Linked DNA regions of Homo sapiens: all the other regions are linked to region 3. The links come from fine-mapping of genetic effects on gene expression. A gene starts in region 3. Each other region holds a variant in brackets. All regions are shown on one strand. Distances are from middle to middle.

Region 1 (4,242 bases), 25 kb before region 3:
TCCTCTGAAAGACAGAAAGCAAAACAAAGCAAAACAAAGCAAAAGGCTATACAGAAATTCAAGATTTGAACTCTGAATCGGAGAGGTCATACCTTTTAACAAATCCAAGATTCTCTAAAGGAAGAAAGTCTAATACCTGACAGATGATTTAGGGACATTTAACCTTTGTATGTTTTTCTCTTCAGGCTAAGAAAAACCCACTTGTTTGGGGGAAAGACAAGCCCAAGGTACTATTAAAAACTCAAATGTTGGGGCTTGCATAAAAAGAGTCACATTCTTTCACTAGGTAATCCCATCCCCAGAAACTGAATTCAAGTAGAAAAAAAATCAAAAGATGAAAAACACTGAGCAAAGCTGTTTAATAAAGTAACTGAAAACAATATAAGTGCTTCCAAACAAGGGATCAGTTAAGTAATTAACAACATACCAGCTAAACCACAGAATATATATTCTATCTATCTATCTATCTATCTATCTATCTATCTATCTATCTATCTATCTAGAGACAGAGTCTCCTTCTGTCACCCAGGCTGGCGTGCAGTGGCGAGATCTCGGCTCACTGCAACCTCCCTCTGCCTCCTGGGTTCAAGCAATTCTTCGTGCCTCAGCCTCCTGAGTGGCTAGGACTACAGGTGCGTGCCACCACACTCGGCTATTTTTTGTATATTTTTGGTAGAGACAGGGCTTCACCATGTTGGCCAAGCTGTTTGTGAACTCTTGATTTCAAGTGATCTGCCTGCCTCGGCCTCCCAAGGTGCTGGGATCACAGGCGTTGGCCACTGCGCCTGGCCAGTATGCACTATTAAAAAGTAAAAATTGAGATAACTAAGTAGAACATGAAAAACTACTTACGAAATATTAGTGAGAAAAAATTTTAATTTTAATTTATATATTCACTCTGATACAACTACATAAACATCAAAGATAAAGCTGGAAGGGAAGAGAAAGTGGTACATTTTTATATTGGTTCTCTTCCTTTTTCCTCTTCTTTTCTTCTCCTTTTTAAAATTCTCATCAATGAACTTGAGCACTTTCAAAGTATTACCAAGAAGCACACAACAGGAGTGCTGGAACATGTGGGGAGGAGGAGCAAAAAGAATGCTTTAAAAAATGGGCCAGAAAAAGGGCAACTGTTAACTGCAGGTACAATGTTAAGGTTGTATAAGGAAGGAGGTTGTGATGGTTAATACTGAGTGTCAACTTGATTGCACTGAAGGAGGCAAAGTATTGTTCCTGCGTGTGTTTGTGAGGGTGTTGCCACATTTGAGTCAGTGGACTGGGAAAGGCAGACCCACCCTTAATCTGGATGGGCACAATCTAATCAGCTGCCAGCTCGGCCAGTGGCCAGATTAAAAAGCAGGCAGAAGAATGTGAAAAGGCTAGACTGGCTTAGCCTCCCAGGCTACATCTTTCTCCCGTGCTGGATACTTCCTGCCCTTGAACATCAGACCTCGAGTTCTTCAGCTTTGGGACTTGGACTGGCTTCCTTGCTCCTCAGCCTGCAGACGGCCTGTTGTGGAAACCTGTGATTGCGTGAGTTAATATTCCTTAATAAACTCCCCTATATATGTACATCTATCCTATTAGTTCTGTCCCTCTAGAGAACCCTGACTAAGACAGAGGTATAGTCACAAAATCCTCCACCGAACAACAGTCTCCAGTAACAGACTGTGTGGAAGGGGCAGGGTGGGGAGGAGGGATTCAAAGCTGCTGTCTTTTTACAATTTGGTTTTCTAAACCACATGTGTATGTTGCTTCAATTAAAATAAAAATTGATGTTAAAACAGCCTTTTACAATGTTTTAAAATTGATTTAACTGTATGGCTATTTGGATAATACGGGGCATGCTCTTAACAGGCTTCAGAATAATTTCAGGCAAGTAAAAGGAGATCCATTATTAAGCTCTATAACAGCCTTCACTTTGAAAGATTTCAAAGCAGTAATATTGCTTTTGAAAAAATAAAAAAATTAAATAAATG[T/C]GTTTCCCTGGGCCCCTGCTAAGAAATCTGTTAGATCCCTTTGTAAGAAGCATTTCAATACCTGGAATGAAGACAGGGTAATAGGTATTTTTCCTTTACAATGGGACTTGAGAGCAAGAGTGGCCTGTAATTATTCCTGAGTCACAAATGTAACCTAAGTTATTGGAAACAGGTGCTATCTGTTGGTTAGTGAATGACTCCTGCTCTTATTCATACATCAGATCAGATTCAAGTATCAGACTGGGAATTTCACAATCCATATGTGGGGATATTGTGGGAATGAGGCCAGCAGAAGAAGTGTATTATTCTACATACTTACTGATTGCTACTGACCCAACCAACTAAATGAGAAAAGTTTAATTTATAAAGAAACATACATGTTAAAATCAGCTCGTTATTAACATATCTCCTCAATTCTACAACACAGTAAGTCCTCCCTTGTCGTCAATAAGTTCTTGGAAACTGAGACTTTAAGTGAAATGACGTACAGTCACTTCCTTCAACGCTGTTTTGTTATAACATTGATGAGAAAAAAACTGATTTCGCTATACATACATTTAATGTATTGCAGTTTCTAAGAATGTATCAATGATATTAAGTGAGGTCTTACCATATTATCAATTATAATAACAGTATTTTGAGAAAATGCTGTTAAAGGTACACATGGATTGTGAGATGTACTCTTGCAATCCTGAAACTGTTATAACTATGAAAAAATACATCTCAGAAGCAACGATATGCAGTGATAAAACATTTATTGGGAGCACCCTCTGTGCAAAGCACTCTGCCCAGAACTGTTCCATTTGAGACTCCACATGCTGAAGACAGAGAGGAACCTGCTCTCTGTGGAAGACCTTGGTCTGCTACCTACAATGGCACGTGCATGAGGGGCAAGAGGAACAGTCATGTACATGCTTAGGATTAGGGAAAAAATTCAGAAACATTGAACAGTAGGGGAATCCTCATGGTAAGTGGGGCACAATGCCAAAACAGAACAGTAGTAACAAGCCGCAGAGGCAGCGGCAACAAAAATGACCTAAAGGGAGCATCTTTAGCTGTATGACACATCAAAATGAAGCAACTACAACACTATGGGCAGTGACTACATCAAAACACAGCCAAACCTCTTCCCCCATGCTGTACTCCAGGCAGACGGCACTATTTGATCACAGCACAACTTCTGGCTAAGCCCAGAGGAAGACTCAGAATTGCTCTCAAGAAATCAGCAGGGCTGCCCTTATGCAGACATTGCTCTGTGTCCTGGTTGTACTATGCATAGACATCACTCTGGATGGATACTACCAGTTGGTTGGGACTGAGACGCTATAAGAACCCAAATTCTTATCCCAGCCCTCTGATCATGGCAACCACCACAGCCCGACTACCTGCAATGATTTAAAAGTAAATGCAGCAGGTGTGTCTGTCTATGGGGGTGGCCTCACTCAATTCATCTTTAGTGTACAGTGGAGTATATCCTAGGTGCTCTTGAGAGTTCTAATTACAACATGAAATCATGGGTAAATATTTACCCTTCCTTGTTTGGTAATGGAAATGGTCTATAGTGCATTCACAGGCCCTCCTTCCAGTCTCATAAAAAGGGGACGTGAAGAACTATTTATTTTATGTTTAAAAAAATAGTTCTGCAGAAGAGTCAATATCTGCCACTCATCTGACTTAATGTGATGAAAAAACAGTCAATACTCACAGAGCAAAATGTTAATCTAAATTGATAATGTCATTTGCTTAGCACAAGAAGTCCTGCTTTTTATGAGCCACTGTCTTCCTGGAAACTATATCAGTGGGTGACTGGGTCACTGTTAAGCAGACTGTATGAAAATGAGATAATATTCACCTGTCAGACTGACCAAAATAATACTAATATAATTATACTATATATAAATACTAATATATCATACATATATCAAGAATACTAATATAAATAATACTAATACATCCAGTATTAGTAAGGATGGAAAAATGGGCACTTAAATACTGTGGAAGGGAGTCTCTATGAAATTAGGAAATAGCTTTTGGAAAAAACAACTTGGTAACATAACAAAAATTCAAAAGTGCACACTCTTCAGCAATTACACATCTAGACAAATATCTTAAGTATTTATACAAGTCCACAAAAAGGAATGTATAAGAACATCTCACTGTCTTAATACTGAAATAATACTAAAAATTATCCATGGCCTGATAGCCACTGAGTGAGGACTTGTTAAATAAATGGCAGCAAATCTCCTTGCTGTGATACAATGTG
Region 2 (4,242 bases), 36 kb before region 3:
ACTATGTTTTCAGCCCTTAGCTGCTTCTAAATAGAGTTGGTGACATCCCCCAAACCTTGAGGGTTGAATATGGAGAAAATTGGAGGTAAAATTGTAGGCTGATGACAAAACAGCATTCTCATCATAGGTCATCTAACGCTCAACAAAAGAGCTGGTCTGCTGTGGTACCGACACCAAGACACTTGCCCTCTCTGGGGTCTGGGTCTCCCTGCCTAATGTCATCCTTGCAGTGATGGTGCCAGGTGTTACTGTGGGGTGGAAGCTGCACTGAGGTAACAATCGGGAGAACTGAGCCCCAGGGAGAGGGTGGTATAGGAATGGGTGTAGGCTCTGGATTTGGAATGCCCAGGCTCCAACCTCAGCTCTACCACTCAGTGGCTAGTTACCTAAACTCTTTGAGACTCATTTCCCCAACTACTAAACAGGATGGTCAAACGATATCACTCATGTAAAGAACTCAGCGTTCTAAAAACCAATAATAAATGCTTCAATATTATCACCAGTCCCTGCTCCATAACAAGCTGAGTGGTGCAGGGCAAATCAGCTTACTATTCTGAGCCTCAGTTCATTCGTTTACCTGTGAAATGTGGTAACTGGGTGATGTCTGAAGTCTCGCCCAACTCTGAAATTCTAAGGAACTATACACTCCAGTGTTAGTCACTTAGGACTGTGTTCTGGGATATGTTCCTCACCTCACTGACAACTGGGAAGCACCACGTCCTGCCTGAGGGTGGCACAGCAAAGCGATGGGGCTCCAAGCCTCGAACACATGGCTTGCCCAAAAGGGAGCTTCTAACCCACTCGGTTTTGTATGGATAAAGGAAGTGTGAGTTATTCCTTCAGTCCCAGCCACACAAGCATCTCCACAAATGCTGATGTCCGCTCAAGAGACAGGAGGCCTTTATTATCAGAGAAAATGAGTCCCTGGCAGGAGACAAATCAGAGCCTTTCCCAGCCCTGAGAGTCTGTCATCTCCCCACCCTCTCCCATACTGACCTAGCAGGACATATGGGCACTTCATGATAGTTAAGTGGAGTCAGAGAGATGCTCCACTCTGTGGTGGGAGTTAAGTGGAAACAGAAACAGAAGATTGGGATCAGAATTTTTCCTCTGATTGGACAAAGATCTTCCGCTTCATCATGATATTTTATAAGTAATCTAAAAACTTGTTCTTGTTTTCACCACTATATAAGATAAACATGCCTAATAAAAATATCCTTAATAGAGATTTTAAGAACATTTCTCTCCTCTTAAAGCCAGGACCACAGGGCTGCAAAGGGAAGTCCTTCTTCCTGTCCTAGCTGAACCACATACCACCGCTGAACCCTACATGAAGCGTGACACTGCAGAGGGCAAGAAGAGCGAGCCTCCCACTAACACAAAGTGGGAAGAAGAGAAGGATGTCCAAACCAAATCAGCATCAGCAGCCCCCAGGGTTCAACAGCACGGGTATCTGTTTTGCCACCATGGAAAATGACTTTAACTAACTCCAGAAGCAGCAATCGACTATGCAGACATGTGGGGCAAATAAAACCCCTTCTGGCACTAAATGTCTTCTGTGAGTTAAAGTGCCTATGAAGAGACACTCAACAAGGTAGATATCTCAGGAAGCAGCCAGCCAGGAACAGCCCTCTCCCTACTCTCCCCTAATC[A/C]CCCCCCCCACACACACAAAGACCCCAGCCCAGACAAAAAGGAAGACATTTGTATAACAAATGCAGTTATACACTTCTCAGCAGCAGCTCAGCTGTGGCGTGTACAAAAGGGGGGACAGAGGACAACCTCAGCTCGACCACATGATTAGTCAAGAGGGCTCCAACAGTATTACAAAACATCTTCCCTTCGAGTCAAGAGACACAAAGAATATGAGCTTTTAAACTGCTGAAGCAACATAAGGCCAACAGTCATGTTCACAGAAGGAACTGGATTCTGGAGCCTGTGGTTTTGAACCAGCATCAGAAAGAGCTGACTTATACACAACAAGAGCAAAGCACTGAAAAGAACAAAAGCGAACTTACGAAATACGCTGGCCATTTATGGCTCCTGTGCTGGGAGCTCTTGCTGCTATTTTATTATGATCAAAGCTGTTAAAACTTACCAAGTTACTTTTATTTATTTATTTTTATTTTTATTTTTATTGTTTTTGAGATGGAGTCTCGCCCTGTCACCTAGGCTGGAGTGCAGTGGCGCGATCTTGGCTCACTGCAAGCTCTGCCTCCTGGGTTCATGCCATTCTCCTGCCTCAGCCTCCCAAGTAGCTGGGACTACAGGCACCTGCCACCACACCAGGCTAATTTTGTTTTTGTATTTTTAGTAGAGACGGGGTTTCACCATGTTACTTTTAAATGTCTATAAATATGCCTTTAAAATTCATAGTAGTCTTGGACAGTATACAAAGTTTGACTTAGTGGGGGTATAAATTTAAAAAATACGAAAACAAGGGAAACAACCACCATGTCCAACATGAAAGGAGTACCTTAGTTAATATGATCCACCAATACAGTGGAATACCACGAGGTCATGAAAATATTAGTGAAAGATATGAATATTTGTGATATAAAACTAAATAAAATGTGAAAGACAAAATTATGTGTAAACTACAATTGCAACTATTTTTACAAGGCACCCATGAGGATTAAGACACAGAAGATACAATGCAAAAAAAAATTACTTTGTTAAATTGGTGGAATACTGGAATTTCTTCTTTTATTCCCAAATGTTTTTACATTGACTTTCTTTTTTTAGAGTAATATTTGTGTAGAAACTTAAAATCAAGCGCAAAGCACCTATACAGAATCACAGAATTTTGGAGTTGAGAGAAACCTTAGAGGTCAGACACCCTTCCTATCTTACAGTTGAGGACCCTGAGGCCTTATGAGGGTTCCTGGGCGGGGAATGCAGGGTGGGGGGTGGCAGGGTTACACAGCTAATTAATGATGCTGCTCTTCTTCACTGTAGCTGCAAGACTAAAAAGTGTGAAAGGCCCAAAGGTACTAAGAAGCTACTCTGTTTGGACCTGGAAGCTTCATCCTCTAAAAATCCGACTGCTTGGAATGTTTTGCAGCTCTGCATTCCAGTCTGAACAGGCTTCTTGGATGATGCGATTTTAGGTAATTATATCTTCAGAAATAGGTTTCTGAAATTTTCATAGCAAACTGAAGTAAAATGTTTCACATGGCAAATGACACAGAGAATCAGTATGAATCACTGAAGGATGGATGGGTTATTGCTCCAAAGAAATCTAAAAAACCGTTGATCCTACAACTCCAGACTCCACAGGTGGGGCCAGCCTCTTCCACACAAGGTCTGGACATAAGGTGACCTGCTAAGTCCGCATTTCCAAAAATATGGGCTGGAAGTAGATACTGTCCGATATGAAATCATAACAAAATGAGCACTATCCTATGAAATACTTGTTTTCCCTCCCCCTCTTCTCCAACTGTTTGAAATTAAGCATCACAAAGTCCGTATCAGCCATAGTAATCTTTGGAGGATGGGGGAGAGTGGTGAGAAAGTTGAATTCCAAGAGGGAAAAAAAAAAAGAAACTACACTGAATTCCTCCTGTTCCCTTTGGAGGGTGAAGAGGAGGAGGAAAAGTTGGGGAAAAGATAGGAAAACACCAGAAATAGTAATAAAAGAAGCTGCTGTTAAAATTTATGAATATAAATGAAAAAAATCAATTAAAGATCTAAAATCACATACTAACCAACGGTGCTGAAAGATCTGAAAGAACAGAGAAGCAAGAACAAAATGAACGCGCATAAATACATTTAAGTTGCTGCTGCCATGAAAGGCCTCTACTGAGTCCCACAATTACTTCAAAGTCTCCAAGGAAGGTGAGAGAGGCGAGTGCTCTCAGACATAAAGGGGGCTGCCTTTTTGAACAGGATGACAATGCAATGCTAAGTCACAACAGATCACAGAAGGGAAAAACAACTGCACACACTTGAAGACCAAAAGCAGCCGTGTCTTCTGAGCATCGTCCTGTTGAAGGGAGATGAGACTCACAGACAGGGCCAGGAAAAGTGAAGCAAAATCCAAGAGGCATCTAAGGATAACATGAGGTCTGTGAATCAGAGACTGCTGTCTCCTGCAGGGTGCTGCAGAAATAAACCTGGCAGGAAGTGTGACATATGCTACAGGGAGGCTGAGCCAGGCTGGAGGGGAAAATTGGGCAGGGAGAGGAGTCAGGCTCCTGTCACTGCCCCAGCTCAATAGGCAGGGTGGAGGAGCTGTTTAGTCAG
Region 3 (4,242 bases):
AGGAATAAGCAGAGGAAACTGCTTCCTACACAATTAGATTAAGTCTTGTTGCAAGGCTGATACTCAGTGTACACAGCGGGTAAAATCTCTCGGAATAAAAAAACAAACAGACCCTGGTCAGGGGCACTGGCTCACACCCCTGTAATCGCAATACTTTGGGAGGCCAAGGTGGGAGGATCACTTGAGCCCAGGAGTTTGAGATCAGCCTGGGCAGCATAGTGAGACCTCATCTCTATTTAAAAACAAACAAACAAAAAAACAAGCCTAGAAAGATGCACAACATCCAGATCACAGCAGAAGGGGCCCTTAAGAATTCAATTCCATCACTGTCTAGACTGAGAAACCCAAACGCGAGTCACTTAAGGTTGCCAGGTAAGCGGCAGAGCTAGGACAAAATATCCTGATTCCCCAATCTCTGTTCTGTCCATTGCACCATGATGCTATCTTCAGCAAAATTCAAATAACTGCAAAACGTCCATCCAAATAAGCAATCCCAAATCTGACAAGTTACAGAAAAAATAAAGCAAAGGTCTTTACATTCTTCAAGTTAACGTCAGGGCTCTCCACAACCTCGGCTCAGCCACCTATCTTCCCAGAAGCACATTCCGATTCATATTTCATATTTTGGTGTGACTTACATAGAATGCAGGAAGGTTAGAAACCAAACCTACAGAAGGATGAGTTTGCAGAAAAATAATGAACAAACAGGGAACCACACCCAGAGCAAATCCAACCCCAGCGGTGGAAAATGCAGACAGCTAAAAAGGGAGAGGACTAAAAGAGAAAGGGACAGAAAGGAGTGCCTTTTCACAGGTGAAGTTTCCCGCAGGAGGCGGTGTGGCGAAAAGCAAACAGCTGCTGAAGCTTAGGAACATTTGCATTCTAGTCGCAGGTCTCCGGGTCTCCGATTAACTCACTGGATGACCTTAGGCAAGCCCTTACCCCTTCCCGGAGTAAGGGCTCAGTTTCTCCAACTGTCCTAGGAGGGAGCTGCACCAGACGACTTCCCAGCGTCCTTGCAGTTCTGACCCAAAGACCCATTATGAGCCTGTCTCAAGCAGCGCTCCCGCAGCGGGCAAGACATTTGCTGGAAACGGGGAGACCTGTGCGAAGCGTGAAAGACGCCCTAGATGGTCCTTTGGGTTATCTTCACCATCTACCCCAGTTTCCCCCACCTGTCAGTCAAACAGGACGGTGAGATCCCAACCCCACGAGGTCAAGGGAGATAGCGCGAGGGACAAGGGATCTCCACGCTTCGCCCAATTCACAGAGGGGTGTCAGCGTCGTACCGCAGCTGCGGCCCGGGGACGCCAAGGAGTCGCGGACCCACAGCCCGGGCGGATCCAGTGCCTGACCTGGAGCATCTGCCACGCCGGGAGGAAGGCGAGGTGGGTCCTGCCCAAGGCGGCGAGCGCCGCCAGCCGGCAGCCAGTGGAGGAACTCACTGCTCGGGTTCTGGCCCCAGCTCCGGCTCCGGCTCTGGCTTCAGCACAGCCCACCCTTCCCGGGTTCAGTATCAGCCCCTCGCCATCCTCCTTTGCTGCCCGGCAGCCGCTTCCGGACCTCATCACGTGATCCCACCGCCCACGCCAGAGGCCGAGGTCACGTGCTCCCTTGAGCGGCCGCGCCTTTTTTCTCACTGAGCTCCGGAGCTCTGCTCCACAGCACCACCTGGCGACCTATTACTGCCACTGCTGGAAGGACTATGTTCCTGGGCGCTGGGGACTGCGAATAGGAACTGAACAGGGCATTGATCTTGGGCATGGGGCAGAGTCCAGTCGAAGAGCACTGTCCCTTGAGTTGTGGGTTTGTGAAATATTGCTAATTTTTACACTGGCTGTATTTTCTTTTACACATCTCGATGAGTTTGTATTGCTTTTATAATAAGAAATATGCATATTTTTAAAACTTCCAATTTTTCAGAAGCATACACAAACTATCATCTGTGGTTGCTACTGGAAATGGAACTGTGGGGTAGGGCAACATTATCTTTTAATACATTCAAATTTTTAAAGTAACATTTTTAAATGGATGGCAACATTTCAGTATTGTATTATCTAGGCTTCTCCTTTTACCTCCTTGTTACAGACTTTTCCTTTAACAATTATGTAACAAATAGGCTTCAAGTCAAAAACTGTCACAAGAGACAGAGAAGATCATTGTTTAATAATAAAGGGGTCAATTCATCAAGAAGACACAACTGTAAATATATATGCATGCAAAATTGGAGCACCTAAATACATACAACTAATATTAATGGCCATGAAGGGAGAAATAGATAGCAACACAATAGTAGGAGGGTCAATATCCCACTTTCAACAATGGATAGAGCAACTAGAGAGAAAATAAGGAAATAATGAACTTGAATTGCACTTTAAACCAAATGAACCTAACAGATATATACAGAACTTTCCATTCAACAGAAACAGAATACACATTTTTTCTCTAACACACTTGAAACATTCTCTAGAATAGACCATATGCTAGTCCAAAAAACAAGCCTTAAATTTAAGAAGATTGAAATCATATTAATATTCTTTCAGACCATAATAATATGAAGCTAGAAATCAATGACAGGAGGAATCTTGGAAAATTCACAAATATGTGGAAATTAAACAACACGCTTTTTTTTTTCTTTGAGACAAAGTTGCGCTCTTATTGCCCCATCTGGAGTGCAGTGGTGCAATCTTGGCTCACTGCAACCTCTGCCTCCTGGATTCAAGCGATTCTCCTGTCTCAGCCTCCCAAGTAGCTGGGATTACAGGCACGTGCCACCACGCGCGACTAATTTTGTATTTTTAGTAGAGACGAGGTTCACCATGTTGGTCAGGCTGGTCTCAAACTCCTGACCTCAGGTGATCTGCCCACCTCGGCCTCCCAAAGTGCTGAGATTATAGGTGTGAGCCACCATACCCAGTCCTATGCTTCGAAACAACCAGTGGGTCAAAGATGAAATCAAACGGGAAATTTAAAAAATATTTTCAGACAATTGACAATGGAAACATAACATACCAAAGCTTATGGAATGCAGCAAAAGTAGTTCTAAGAGAGAAGTTTATAGCAATAAATGCCTACATTAAAAGAGAAGAAAGAGACCAATTAAATAGTTTAACATTATACCTCAGGAAACTGGAAAAAGAAGAGCTCACAAGACCCAAAGTTAAAAGAAGAAAAGAAAGAGCAGAACAGAAATAAATCAAATAGACAACAGAAAAAAAAACAGACAAAATCAATAAAACTAGAGTTGATTTTTTGGAAAAAATTAAATTGACGTACCCTTTGCTAGTCTAAGAAAAAAAAGAAGACTAATAAAATAAAAAATGAAAGTGAAGACACTACAACAGAAGCTTCAGAAATAAAAAGAATCATATGGGGCTATTGTGAACAATTATTTGCCAACATATTGGATAACCCAGATGAAATGGAGAAATCCCTAGAAAAATACAACCTACCAAGATTGAAATCAGGAAGAAATGGAAAGCCTGAACAGACTAATAACAAATAAAGAGATTGAAGATGAGACAGGGACTATCTGACTTTCTGGTTTTCTGTTTAAACTTCCCAACAAGACCAGATGGCTTCACAGCTGACTTCTACCAAACATTCAAAGAAGAAGGTTTGTTACTAAACTCTTCCAAAAAATGGAGCTAGAGGGAATACTTCCAAACACATTTTATGAGGCCAGCATCACCTTGATACCTAAGCCAGAGAAAGACGCCACAAGAAAAGAAAATTACAGGCTGATTTCGCTAATGCACATTGGTACAAAATCCTCAATAAAATATTTGCAAACAGAATTCAACAACAATCAAAAAAATTATGTATCATGACCAAGTGGGATTTATCCCTGGCATGCAAGGCTGGTTTAACATACACTAATCAAGCAATATAATACATCATATTAACAGGATGAAAAATGAAAACCACATGGTTATCTCAATTGGCCTGGCAAAAGCATTTGACAAAGTCCAACATCTTTTCCTTCCCTAACCCCCACCCCAACATACCTTCTTGATAAAAAAAAACTCTCAATAGTTTAGGTATAGAAAGAACATTCCTCAACATAATAAGGTCGTTTATGAAAAACACACAGTTAACATTTTAATTAATAGGGAAAAACTGAAAGCTTTTCCACCAAGATCCAGTAGCAGTCAAGGATACCCACCCTCACCACTTCTATTCAACATAGTACTGGAAGTACTAGCAAGAGCAATCAGCCAAAAAAGCAAAAGAAAGAAAGGC

Evidence for each region. PIP is the estimated chance that this variant, and not a neighbour inherited with it, causes the effect.
Region 1: its variant is the best candidate, but not a certain one, in a credible set for the expression of SLC36A1 in skin (TwinsUK, PIP 0.87).
Region 2: its variant is the best candidate, but not a certain one, in a credible set for the expression of SLC36A1 in neutrophils (Naranbhai 2015, PIP 0.51).

The regions. Positions count from the first base shown.
Region 1 is chr5:151,469,435-151,473,676 of GRCh38, reverse strand. SLC36A1 (solute carrier family 36 member 1) reads right to left here. Exons shown (of 11, transcript NM_078483.4): 8 at 1-4. Among named protein-coding and RNA genes, the nearest start is that of SLC36A1, 24 kb to the right of the region's middle. The variant T/C (reference allele first, on the strand shown) is at 1,980.
Region 2 is chr5:151,480,937-151,485,178 of GRCh38, reverse strand. All of the region lies in intron 10 of SLC36A1 (solute carrier family 36 member 1), which reads right to left. Among named protein-coding and RNA genes, the nearest start is that of SLC36A1, 35 kb to the right of the region's middle. The variant A/C (reference allele first, on the strand shown) is at 1,653.
Region 3 is chr5:151,444,927-151,449,168 of GRCh38, reverse strand. SLC36A1 (solute carrier family 36 member 1) reads right to left here and starts at 1,566. Exons shown (of 11, transcript NM_078483.4): 1 at 1,356-1,566. RefSeq lists an enhancer at 1,537-1,586.